Linked DNA regions of Homo sapiens: region 2 is linked to region 1. The links come from fine-mapping of genetic effects on gene expression. A gene starts in region 1. The other region holds a variant in brackets. All regions are shown on one strand. Distances are from middle to middle. Region 1 holds the start of SCN4B (sodium voltage-gated channel beta subunit 4). Region 2 overlaps SMIM35 (small integral membrane protein 35).

What was found.
Region 2: its variant is fine-mapped to the expression of SCN4B in whole blood (TOPMed, PIP above 0.99).

Annotation. Positions count from the first base shown.
Region 1 is chr11:118,151,151-118,154,062 of GRCh38, forward strand. It overlaps SCN4B (sodium voltage-gated channel beta subunit 4), which reads right to left and starts at 1,673. Exons shown (of 5, transcript NM_174934.4): 1 at 1,463-1,673. The coding sequence starts at 1,523. RefSeq lists an enhancer at 2,291-2,791.
Region 2 is chr11:118,030,212-118,033,123 of GRCh38, forward strand. All of the region lies in intron 1 of SMIM35 (small integral membrane protein 35), which reads right to left. Among named protein-coding and RNA genes, the nearest start is that of IL10RA, 45 kb to the left of the region's middle. The variant T/A (reference allele first, on the strand shown) is at 1,243.

The DNA.
Region 1 (2,912 bases):
CATCATTTTCAGGGCCCTCTTGGTTGCCCACAGAGGCCTGGTTCTATGAGTATTCTAACAAACAAGGGACTGGCATCCCACCACCCAGGAAGGTAAGCCAGAGGTGTGAAGTGGGGTAGTTTAATGACTGGCTGAGTTTGAATTCCTCAGTGATCCTTTACCCCTGCCATTGCCACCATGGGGACCTGGGCTGATCTGAGATGGGATGAGGGGAAGTAGCATGGAATGGCGCTGTGCCCACCCTGTGAAAAGGAGCCTCAGGCGTCACTAAGGCCCACTTCATTAAGGTCACTGTGAAACCAGCATGACATCTGTGCCAAGGTACAGGAGAAAACAAGGGTGTCTTCCATCTAGCGGTACAGAGGTAAATAAACATCCCAAGTACAAGAAATACTCTCTCCCCTCTTCACCACCAGGCACCAACCTGCTAGATCTGCACACAGTTTACATTCGCAGAAACAGTAGCCACTTCCCTTATAGGGTTCTGTCTCCCTGTTTTCAGCAGAAATACCTACACCGTGTGTCTTACCCAATGCAGGGAGCTGCCAAAAGCCAAATCTGACCAATATAAACAGGAAGAGATGCCGTTGCCAGAGATGGAGTCGGCTTACATTAAAGTCTGGCTATGATTTATGAGGAGATTACATCCTGGATGAATAAATATCATTCCCTAATCTCTTGGAGTTTGACACTCAAAACTCTCATGTGCATATTAATAGATATTAATAATGCTTCTTCCTCCGTGTCCTCTGGACATGTCTTCTCTGTCTCCATATTCACTTCAAAAATGAAGAGCCAGGAGCAGGTCAAACAGGTCTTCCCTACGGAATCTCTTTGTAGGAAGAGAGACAAGGCCGTTCCTAAAGGGCCTTGAATGATCCCGCAAGCCCCTCCAGCCCCTTCCAGCTTTCAGGTGCTGCTGTAGGGAAGGCAGTGGCTCCTGAGGGAGGTACAGGGCAGAGGAGCAAAGCAGGAAAAGGGCCCAGGAAGAAGGGGACTCCCCCACCCCCAACTGGTGCATGCCTGGTGCCTGGGAAACAAGCAAACGGCTCTGGGCCGGGATGGAAACCACCATTCCAACAGTCACACGTGCAACCCACCTGGTATCCCCTGCACTCAAGGCACGGACCCCCCTCCTCCAGCATCCTGAACCTCTGAACTCTGGAGACCCGCGCTGCAGCCCCAAGATCCAGCTCCAAATACCTGGAGCCGAAGGTGCCAAGGACAGCAAAAAAACTAATCCTGAGACTGGCGGGCTGATGGGGTAGAGAGGGACGCACACGGTCCCCAGGGAGCACAGCCTATGAACCAGGCAGGAACCAGGCAGGAAGCCGGCGGCCACCATCCTCATTCCGTGCCGCACTCCAAAGCCCACCCCATCCAAGGCATCTTCCTTCTCGAGTGTCCCCTTCTTTGGGGGTGGGGGGAGGCAAGAGAAGAGACCAAGCTGGGGCTGCCTTACCCAAAAGCCCAGTGCCCAGCCATCTCGCCGGGGCTTTGCCTCCGTCCCCAGCCCCGGGCATAGTCCTGTTCTCTCCGGAGCGCGCGGGGGTCGCGGGGATGGGATACTGGGCACAGCCGCGCTCTCCGCCCGAGGTCGGCGTTCGGCCACAAAGCTACCCCGGAGCTCTGCGCCGCCGGTCGGGGCTCGGGAAAGTTAGCGGGCAGAGAGCGAGAGGAGGGGGAGGGAGGGAGCGGAGGGGGAGGCGCGCTCGCCCGCTGCTGGGAGCCGGCTGCTGGAGCAACGGCGGGAGGGAAGGAGTAGGAGGAGCCGGAGCAGGAGCGGGAGGAAGACGGAGCGAGCGCAGCGGCGAGCGAGGCTGCGCCTCTGCTCTGGAAGCGCTCCAGCCGCAGGAGGGGCGGTGGCCGCCGCGTAGGCCGGGGAGCCCCCGCCCGCTGCGCACCCTGCCTGCCGCACCCCGCCTCGCGGTCCCGGAGCCCCGGGACCACGCCGTGCCCCCAACTCCCTCTCCAGTGGGGCTGGGCTGCTGCGGCTGGCACTGCAGGGCCGGCCTGCAGCCACCCGCATCATCCCATGCGCTGAGCTGCCAATTAGGAGCATAGTTCGGGGGGAGTAGAGGTGGAGCTTTTCGGTTGCTGGAAGACTGTTTTGCTTTGCTTGGGGGAACACGGGAAGGTTAGCGGCTCCCTCTCCCAGGACCGCCAAGGGACCGCTTTAAAGTCCGCAGCGGACGCTGCCGCAACGGGTGGGCGTGTGCGGGCTTGCCCACTGCAGCTTGCGCCTCCTCGGTGGCGTGCGACATGGCGCGCGTGCAGCCTCGGGACCCGCTCCCGCCACCTTCTGCCCCATCGCTCAGCAACTCCGGCGGTTGTTTTAGGAAGCCCGGAACAGAGCTTTCCCATTGCAAACTGCCCCGGCCCTCCCTTCCCCCACCCCCACGCCACCCCGCCCCACATTTCTCCATGGACCCCTTGGAAATCACCACGCTCCAGGTTAGGGAGCAGGTTGGTCCGCGCCTGGTCTGTGTCCTGCGCCCCATTTCACCCTCCCGCTGCACCCCTGCTTCTCATTTTTCCTACCTAGGCCGTCCCCCTCAGATGCTGCCTTTTCGCCCTCCTCCAACTCTCCTGTTTTCTTCGGAACGGCAGACTCCCTCGGCCTCCCTTTTGGGGTAGGGGTGGAGGAGTCCAGGGTGACAACCAGGTCAGAGGGCTGAGGCGAGGCTGTGAACGAGTAAGCCTTTTCCCAGACAGGCCCAAGTGAAAGAGTTTCACCTGAGCGGTGCTACTTGGGCTGGTGGTTCTGTAAATGAGTCGATCTCCTCCTCAGCACCTTTCCAACCATCCAAGACCCTCCCTGCATCACAGGCCCTCTTTACTGTCTAGGACTGGTCCGGACTGGGAAGCCCGCTCCCACTTCATGGTCTGACTTCTGCTGCAGGCACACCAAC
Region 2 (2,912 bases), 120 kb before region 1:
TTTAGTAGAGATGGGGTTTCGCCATGTTGGCCAGGCTGGTTTTGAACCCCTGACCTCAAGTGATCCACCCGCCTCAGCCACCTAAAGTGTTGGGATTACAGGTGTGAGCCATCGCACCCAACTTGCAACATAATTTATGTTGGGCTCAGGCTTCTTCACAGAAACGTAATGCTGGGAGACAATAGAGCACAATCTACAAGGTTCTAAGAGAAAGAAAGTGAAAACCAAAAATATTTTAACAACCCAAGATGTTCAAATATAAAGATAAAAGACAGACATTTTCAAATATAAAAGAACTTAAAGAATAGAATATCTGCATGTTCTTTCTTGGGCCCAGCCGCCATTGGTGGTGGAGTGGCACTATGGTGGTCCTGAGCAGCGTGAAGCGGGGTCCATGGAGAAGGGCTGCTTAGCACGAGATGCCTGATCCCAAGCTGGGGGAGGAGGGTATCCATAAAGATGGGAAGCCTGGTGTGGGGAGTCAGGGCTGAGCAGGAAGAGGAAGGCATAGGGAATGAGGTAGTCTAACCTGGAGCATCAGAGCCAAAGCAGGATGAGGAGGGTTCTAGGTGGAGGATAGCCTGGTATGTGGAGTCAAAGCCTGAATGGGATTAGGAGGGCATCCATGGCAGTGTTAGGGGTTATGGCCCACCAAGTGGAGTCAGAGCCCAACAGGGCAAAAAGAAAGGCCATGATGGTGCAGCCCAGCATGAAGTATCAGAGCCCAAGTAGAAGAAGACAGACATTAGTGCTAGAGAGGACATGGCAGCAGAGATTGGATATTGATTGATACTGATCAATCAATATCAATATCGATGTTGATTACATACAAAGGATTAATTAAGTAGTATGTTAAGACTAATGGACGCCAGACTTCACACTGTTGGAAAAAAGAGTTACAAATACAAAAAGAGAGACACCTAGAATAAATTTCGTGGTGTTAGATTGGAATTGAAGTTATTGGTGTGAACTACAGTTTAATACACATATAAATAGATATAGAAACGGACATAGACCTGTATGGATGTATGTAGCTTTGTCCACTAGGAGGGCTTGAGGCAGCAATGTCCCAATATCAACAGACACATCTACCACTAAGATCTTGGCTTCTGAATGCCATTTTCCACTCAAAGGAACCAGGGTCCCTTGGAGAAATGGCTGATTTCAGTACCAGCAGGGAAAGTAAAAGATGAATTTGAATCATCTTTCTGTGCCACAGCAACAATAAGGAAGGTCCTAAAA[T/A]ACAATAGGAGCATGTCAAATGACATATAAGCTAGCTTCTATTGGACAAAGCAATGGCTGTTAAGTTTTCAAGGGAAGGCGAGAGTATCAAAATTTGATTTGATATTTGAGTATCAAAATAAGTGATGGCGGGAACAACCCACTGAATAAAATAGAAACCATGAGTCCAAAAGACATTAATTAATTAATTAATTAAAAGTTTACTGCACAATGGCATACTTAGTTTCAAATTCCTCTCCACAAAGTACTTATTAATTACAAAGAGAAAAAAATAATAACTTTACAGATGGGAAGCTTGGCAAACACCACCTTAATCAAGTGACCAGAGTGAGCTTCATCAGTAATGAGACAAACAGAAATGGCATACCACCTGAGGGGAGGCGAGGAGAAGAAACCAGCATCGGCCAGGCATGGTGGCCCATGCCAGTAATCCTAGTGCTTTGGGAGGCTGAGACAGGAGGATCTCTTGAGGCCAGGAGTCCGAGACCAGCCTGGGCAAATGGCGACACCCCGTCTCTAACAAAAAAATACAAAAAAAAAAATTAGCTGGGTGTGGTGGTGCGTGCCTGTGGTCCCAGCTACGTGGGAGGATGGTTTGAGCCCAGGAGACAGAGATTACAGTGAGCCAAGATCACACCACTGTACTCCAGCCTGAGTATAAAGATCATTCAAGAGAAGATTGAGAAAATGCTCCAGACTGAAGCAGAATAAAAAGACATGACAACTAAATGCAACTTGTGATTCTGAATTGTATCCTTTTGCTGTAAAAGCCACTATCGGGGCAACTGACAAAACTTGAGTAATGTGAGAATTAGATGGGAGTAGTGTATTGTTATTAATTTTCTGATTTTGATCACTGTGTCATGGTTATGTAGGGAAATGTCTGTAGGAAATACATTCTAGAGTAATACGAATAATTATATATGAAAAAGCAAAGTTTAAGTGGATATAGTAAAATTCTTTTAAAAGACTATATATTTCATGATATGCATTTTAATGTATATATACACCTTATTCTTCTGGACAGATGCAGAAGAAAAGTAATGTGATGATCTGGGAGAGGAACTGGGTGGTGGTAGGAAAGAGCTTTTGTTTTTCATTTTATATCTTCCTGCATAGTTTATTTTTTTTTGCCAGGTACATGTATTACTCTAATAAAAACAAATACAGGAGGCTGGGCATTGTGGCTCACACCTGTAATCCCAGCCTTTGAGAGGCCGAGATGTGGGGATCACTTGCGGTCAGGAGTTTGAGACCAGCCTGGTCAACATGGTGAAACCCCGTCTCTACCAAAAAATACAAAAATTATCCAGGCGTGGTGGCAGGCGCCTATAGTCCCACCTACTCAGGAGGCTGAGGCACGAGAATCACTTGAACTCAGGAGGTGGAGGTTGCAGTGAGCCGATACCATGCCACTGCACTTCAGCCTGGGCAACAGAATGAGACTCTGTCTCAAAACAAAAAACAACAACAAAAAAAGGAGTTTTCTGGAGAGTGAGATTATGTGTCATTTCTGTTTTTCTTATTTTTTTACATTCAAAAAACTAATACATAATAATGTTAGACATTTGCATGCACACGCATGGAAATTTTTATTTTTCTCTCTACAGTTAAGGCAAAAAGTGAATAAGGATCAGCTCTCATCAATTAAGTCAGGCTTTGAACAATTT